Homo sapiens: one gene and its partner. The protein of the gene in region 1 purifies or fractionates together with the protein of each later gene. This does not show direct contact. Each region holds a gene or a part of one and is shown on either strand. Other genes may lie near its edges.

Region 1 (3,695 bases):
TAAGGGGAAAAAAAAAGCCCCAGGCTGGCAGACAAAACCAGAAGTGGGGTCTGGTACTAACCCTTCACCCAAGTGGTGTGCTGAGGGCACCCATGATCTCCTTTCACCCCCATAGGCCCCCAGTGAGGTAGCTCCCACCATTACCATGACCTGTTTGACCTATCACTGTGAAATGATAACATATGTGTTGGTCTCAGCCTCCAGTTCCTGACACAGAGATCCTAAAACCTGTGTCATTTCCTAAGCAGCAGGGGTGCTAGGAGCATCTTTTGTTCTATTATCTGGTCTGTGATCCTGGCTCCTGACGCAGAGCTCCTAAATCCTTTGGAATTTCCTGGGTGACAGGGGCATCTTTGGTTCCAATGAGGCAATGAGGTCCTGGATGGGGGCTGATCACAGAAAGAGCAAGGCATGATTAGAAGCTGGGAACTTTCAGCCCCACCCCCTACCCTCCCGGTATGGGAGGGAAGCTAGAGACTGAGTTAATAATCCATCATGCCTATGTGATGAAGCCTCCGTAAAAATTTGGAACTACAGGGTTTGAGGAGCTTCCCTTGGTGATTAAGAACGCACCCATGTGCTGGGAGGGTGGCTCACTCCCAACTCCACAGGGTCAGAAGCTCCCATGCTCGGGACCCTTCCAGACCTCACCCTACCTATCTCTTCATCTGGCTGTTCATGTGTATCCTGTAACATATCCTTTGTAATAAACTGGCGCCCTAGTAAGTGGACTGTTTGCCTGAATTCTGTGAGCCATTCTAGCAAATGATCAAACCTGAGGAGAGGGTCCACAGAACCTCTGATTTGTAGTGAAATCAGACAGATGTTGTGGGTAACCTGAGAGCTCAACACTGCAGATGGTGTCTGACAAGGAGCGCAGTCTTGTGGGACTGAGTCCTTAACCTATGAAGTCTGCACTAACCCTGGGTTATTAGTGTCAGAATTGAGTTCGATTATAGGACACCCAGTGGGTGTCTGGAGAGTTGGATAATTTGTTGGTGTGGAAAAAAACTCAACACATCTGGTCACAGAAGTGCTGGAAGTACTGAGCAAGAGCTTACAGAAAAACAGCTGGCTTTTCCTACAGAGCAGATACGGCATCAGGGGTGTCAAGAGCTTCCACGGCATGCCCAAGGTCACGGAGGATGAGAAGTAGAGCAGGCAGCCCCAGGAGAGGGGCCGTGTTCTATCTTTAGGTCTGCCTGCCTGCTGGGGTAATGCCCGCAGTAGCTCAGGAGAGGAGGAGAAGCCATGGAGGGGAGGGAGTGGAGAGGCAGAGGGAAGAAGCACTCACCTGTGGAAGGAGGTCATACGGGCTTTCAGAGCCTGCACGAAGGGGAGGATCCAGTGGTGGCGCAGAACCACACTCTGGGACAGGCTGAGGTGGAACACCTTCATCCTTACCAGCCGGGGGACATATGTCTGGGCATGGGGCAGCAACACATCAAGCAGATCCAGGAACTCCTCCTTGGCTTCATCTGGAGGGGAGGAGTAAAGAGGGCGGGCCGTTCTCTCAGCCAAGGTGCCATGGCTGAATGAAGAAGCCCAGAAGGCAGAGGGAAGTCCTTATTACTCTGGGTTTGGGGAGAAAATTACTTGGACAGCAGCCTATGTCTATGTCTTCTAATATAATTTTATTTTCATTTATTTATTTATTTATTTATTATTATTTTTTTTTTTTTGAGAAGGAGTCTTGCTCTGCCGCCCAGGCTGGAGTGCAGTGGTGCAATCTCGGCTCACTGCAAGCTCCGTTTCCCGGGTTCATGCCATTCTCCTGCCTCAGCCTCCCGAGTAGCTGGGACTACGGGCGCCCGCCACCACGCCTGGATAATATTTTTTTTTTGTATTTTTAGTAGAGACGGGGTTTCACCGTGTTAGCCAGGATGGTCTCGATCTCCTGACCTCGTGATCCGCCCGCCTCGGCCTCCCAAAGTGCTGGGATTACAGGCGTGAGCCACTGCGCCCAGCCTCCAGTTTTTCTTAACAAGGTCTACCCTCAGGAGAAACTTACTGAATTACAGCCTAACCTGAAAGTGTTTTATCAGACTCTTAACTGACCTAGGGGAAGTGAAATACCAAACTGCAGCACCTTCTGGTCATCCTGTCCCACCTAGGAAGGGGAAAATTCTGAGAAGCGTGTGGGAAGTTCCCAGTCCAGAGGAACCGGCTCACCAAAAGATTGACACCCAATCACAGGACTACAGAAGGATTCTTGTCCCCCACCACCTCACCACCACATTCATACAGGCCTGTTTACCACAGTTCCTTTTACATAGTACTTCATGTCCAGCTATCGAGGAAAAATTACAAGACATACTAAAGGGCAAAAATACAATCTGAAGAAAAATAGTAAGCATCAGAACCCCTTAAATATAAAAGACTAGAAACCATACAATGTCTGATCTCAGGCCACAATGAAATTAGACTAAAAGTCTGTAACAGAAATGTAGCTGGAAAATCCCCAAATACTTGGAGATTAAAAAACACACTTCTAAATAACACACGGATCAAAGAAGAAATCTCCAGAAAACTTTATAAATATTTTGAACAAAATAAAAATGAAAACATAACTTATCAAAACTTGTGGAATGCAGCAAAAGGTGCTTAGAAGAATATTTATAGCATCAAATGCATATATTAGAAAAGAAGATCTAGGCCGGGTATGGTGGCTCACGCCTGTAATTCCAGCACTTTGGGAGGCAGAGGCAGGTGGATCACTGGAGGTCAGGAGTTCGAGACCAGCCTGACCAATATGGTGACACCCCGTCTCTACTAAAAATACAAAAATAACTGGGCACGGTGGTGCGTGCCTATAGTCCTAGCTACTTGGGAGGCTGAGACAGGAGAACCACTTGAACCTGGGAGGCGGAAGTTGCAGTGAGCTGAGATTGCGCCACTGTACTCCAGCCTGGGTGACGGATCGAGGCTCCCTCACAAAAAAAAAAAAAAAAAAGAAAAAGAAAAAGATCTAAAGTCAATCATCTGAGTTTCATCTTAGGAAAGTAGAAAAACAACAGCAAATTTAATCCAAAGTAAGCAGAAGTAAAGAAATAATTAAAATTAGAGCAGAAATCAATAAAATTGAAGACAAGAAATCAATAAAGAAAATCAATAAAACCAAAAGCTGGTTGTTTGAAAAGATCAGTAAATCAACAAGTTTCTAGCCAGGCTAACTAAGAAAAATAGAGAGGGCACACAAATTACTAAAATCAGGAATGAAAGATGGGACATCATTACAGATCCCATGGATAATAAAAGGATAATCAAAGAATACCATGAATAACTTTATGTCCACAAATTTGATAACCTAGATGAACTGGAACAATTCCTTGAAAGACCCGATCTGCTAAAACTCACAAAAGAAGAAATAATCTAAATAGGCCTAAATCTATTAAACAAATTGAATTATTATTATTTTTTTTTTGAGACAGAGTCTCACTCTTTTGCCCAGGATGGAGTACGGTGGTGCAATCTTGGTTCACTGCAATCTCCGCCTCCCAGGTTCAAGCGATTCTCCTGCCTCAGTCTCCCGAGTAGCTGGGATTACAGGCACCCGCCACCAAGCATGGCTAATTTTTTTGTATTTTTTTAGTAAAGACAGGGTTTCACCATGTTGCCCAGGCTGGTCTCAAACTCAGGCAATCTGCCCGTGTTGGCCTCCCAAAGTGCTGGATGATAGGCGTAAGCCACTGCAC
Region 2 (3,871 bases), on another chromosome or scaffold:
TAAAAGTAATAAAATGATAGGAATGTCTAAGAAGTACTGCACTTTGGGAGAAAGAGAAAAGAAAGGCACTCTTTCTGCAAAAGCTACATGTATCAAATGCTAGAACTGTTCAATGTTTAAGTTTTATAATATAGTTTCAAATAATGGTTTTTAAAACTATCCTTTACTAAAACTCTTCTCCCCACAAAGTTATTCTAAAAGTAGAACTTTGAGCCACCAAACCTCCCTTTCCTACTAATGAGTAAAAATATATTATAACGTATAGTAATTCAGAGCCTTGAGATTCCATATCTGTATTCTTAAAGTGACCTGGAAGTATACCTACTTTTGATTCAAAAAAGAAGCCCCAGTAAACAAGTAAGCAAGTTTTCTTCACTTCATAATAGGGCATTAACTGAATACCTAATATACAAAAAGCAAAAAAGGAGGTGGACCTTTAGAATAACACTTGGATTCATCTATATTTTAAGTTTTTAAACTCCTCAAAAGACAAAATAGATTTAAGAAATCAATTTCTTTAAATTTTTATATTTCATCATTTTGTTAAAAGTTTAAGAGGATTGCTTATAGTAAAAATAAAAGCAGTCATTATTTTTTTCTTAACAAATCTTCCTCTAACCAAATATCTCTGTATTTATGTCATAAAAGTTACTTAAATTATGACATAGTACTTTTAGTTACATACCCCCAAATTACCTTAAAGTTATTTTCCTTTGGTTTTCTCCTCATTATTATATTAAAAGTTTCATACACATCCTCTGCTCCATTTTGTATAGTATTGGTCATATCTTGTTGATACTGGTTTGGATCCAAAAACACTCTAAATGTCCTTGATTCTCCTCTAAGATTGGGTCTGGGTTCAGGTCCTGGACAATTTGAAAAAGTTTGTTAAATAAAATATGTATTTTTCAAATATCAAAATAAGTTAACAGTATTTCTTTTCTAGAAATGGTGAGTAAATGGTTCAGGCTTAACTCCAACCATTCTTCCCAAAGTAGAATGCCCTCCACTCACCCACTTCAAATTCTAAGATGCTGAAAGTATTTTCTTCTTTCTCTAAATTCTTACTATTTCCTTCCATAGCAGTCATGTAATGTTTACGATGCAACACCATGACTTGCAATAATTTGTACACACACTCAACTAAAATAGGAGTACTTAGAAGTCAAAGAACTTATCTTTACTTTTGTCACTCATAGCTCCCACTACTGCCTTACATATAGTAAGTATTCAATAAATATTTTCTAATTAAATATATGTATTTTAGAATTTAAGGCATAGTTTTCTATTCATTAATTCCTTAATTTGACAGAGGTTCATCACTTTTCTCATCCTTCCACATTCCATACCTAGTATAACCAGCATGAAAAGAAATTTCACATACACAGAAATGTAGGATACTAATGGTTGAAAGCCCAGAGCCTTTTCTTTCCTCTCTGACATATCTCCTCTTTTTTGGGGGGGGTGGGGGGAAGGGGGGGTCTTAGACCTCGAACTTTGGTTCCATTATGTGGCCTTATGCTTATTCCATCCATTTTCCATTCCCTTCTCCTATTTCCTCTCATTCTAGAGATAAATAACTTAATCATCAGCAGTTTAGCAATGATATAATCTCTAAACCACAGATAGCATAAACTGACTAAAGTTTCAAAAGAAGTACAACAACCAAATTGTAAAATAAGCACTAGACATGTATGCAGTTGTAATTTAATAATAAGTATTATAAAGGAAGTCAGGACAACAGAAGAAAGAATTTCAAAGGGATAATAAGTGATACACATAAGAAATCAAATAACTGACTAATTTTGTAAAGCAGTGTTTTTAAATGCGGTAAAGTTGGCATCTTATGCAGGATAATTCCTTCTTTTATTTCTGTTCAGATGTTTAGCATCCTTGGCTCACAGTTACCTAATGCCAAGAGCCTGCCATTCCTCACCTCTATCCCGGTCATTTGAAAACCTAAATATCACTATGCATTTTCAAACGCAGGACAGTATTGTTCCCAATTAAGAACCACCACTACAATGAATTAAAATAGTCAAATTTAAGAAGAAAAAATATATCATTGAACACAAAAAAGCTTGGACAACTGTAAGAGATATTTAGAGTGTTTCTTAAAAAAAATATGGTAAAGTATTACATATTTTAAAAAGCTTTGAATAAAGATGATTTCAAAAGATCCTGTCCCAGAGTTCGAGACCAGCCTGGCCAACATGGTGAAACTCTGTCTCTACTAAAAATACAAAAATTAGCCAGGCGCGGTGGCAGGCACCTGTAATCCCAGCTACTGGGGTGGCTGAGGCAGAATTGCTTGAACTTGGGAGGCAGAGGTTGCAGTGGGCCAAGATCGCGCCACTGCACTCCAGCCTGGTTGACAGAGCAAAACTCCGTCTTGGGGGGAAAAAAAGAAAAAGATCCTGTCCTTTCCAATATCTAACATAGAAGTTCTGAAACTGTCTGGGTGTGGTGGCGGCTCATGTCTGTAATCCCAGCACTTTGGGAGGCCGAGGCAAGTGGAGTGCTTGATCTCAGGAGTTTGAGACCAGCCTGGGCAACATGGGGAAACCCCATCTCTACAAAAATTAACCGGGCATGGTCGCACGTGCCTATGGTCCCAGCTACTAGCAGGGCTGAGGCTGGAGAATCGCATGAACCCAGGAGGCAGAGGTTGCAGTGAGCCGAGATTGTGCCACTGAACTCCAGCCTGTGTGACACAGTGAGAAACCATGTTACCTATATCTAAAACTGCACGGTAGGTACCCTACACATATTTGATACAAAATCCTTTGTGTCAATTTAGTAGGTAAAAGAACTAAAAAATATTACCTAAGAAGCAAAAAGGGAAAAAGGCAAAGAAATTTATCATTCTATACACATACTCTTTCAAAAATATAGGTCACCATACCATCTTCAATGACACGTCCTTTATCATCCAGCATGCCCTGAATTTCACAGCCTCTGACATAAACCAGGCCAACCTGCTCAATAAAAGGTCTCCTCCGGTCAAACTTAGTGCCATAAGGTTTTGTGGGACGTACGGTAATTAAAAAGCATACATCATGCTTACGAAGACCTGGTAAGATATAAAGACATTTTCATTTATTAGAATTTCATTGTTTTCAGTCTTTTGTAGGCAAATTCTTATTTGCCTCTCTACCTCTTATCTTTGGTAGAGAGATACCGTTGAGTGACCAATGATTATTATCGCATTGTAACACAATTATGGGCTTTTCTATAATCTTTAATACTCAATATTTCATAGCATTAATTGAAATGAAAACTTCTTTATATTAAAATTAGAAACATTCATGCCATGAATATATTACTGAATAAGCCCTCCAAGTCATGCTACAGCTCCAAAATTGGATGTTCGTCATCATTCTTATTTTTAACAATCTTAATAAGTAACCAAAAATATGGCTGGCATATAATCCATCTATAGCATATTTAGCAGGTTTTTAATATCAGTTTAAACTATCTATCAGTGTCATTCCAAAGACAGCCTAATTGTATTTCACTAAAACAGGTCAACTCAAGAATAATTAATCAAGGCAAAAAAGTATTGTTTACAGGTATGATCTTGAGAAAGATGGCTGAATATATACAGTTTCAGTTGGCAAATCGTGAACATTTTTATAAGTGAATGTCAAGAAAAAGGAGACTTGTGCCAGAGTCCACAGCTTCTTGGTCACTAGACCCAATAAAGAACTCAAATGGCTTCCCAGCTCTATTAAAAGTAGAGAAACTGGAAGACAAGGATTATAAAATTAGACCTCACAGCATGTAATGCTACACCACTTAATCTTCATTCCATTTCTGATGTTTTTGTTAGCCATTACATGACATAAATGTAAATGTAAACAGTCTGCTT

Evidence for each region.
Region 2: the proteins of USB1 (region 1) and AQR purify together in Homo sapiens (affinity purification with mass spectrometry; 3 studies listed by BioGRID and IntAct, with this or other methods). This does not show direct contact.

Annotation. Positions count from the first base shown.
Region 1 is NC_000016.10:58,007,712-58,011,406, reverse strand, and holds part of USB1 (U6 snRNA phosphodiesterase 1), read right to left. Parts: intron 1,479-3,695; coding exon 1,295-1,478; intron 390-1,294; coding exon of another isoform or gene 278-389; exon of another isoform or gene 1-277. UniProt on the Homo sapiens protein: 3'-5' RNA exonuclease that trims the 3' end of oligo(U) and oligo(A) tracts of the pre-U6 small nuclear RNA (snRNA) molecule, leading to the formation of a mature U6 snRNA 3' end-terminated with a 2',3'-cyclic phosphate.
Region 2 is NC_000015.10:34,903,640-34,907,510, forward strand, and holds part of AQR (RNA helicase aquarius), read right to left. Parts: intron 3,074-3,871; coding exon 2,906-3,073; intron 867-2,905; coding exon 697-866; intron 1-696.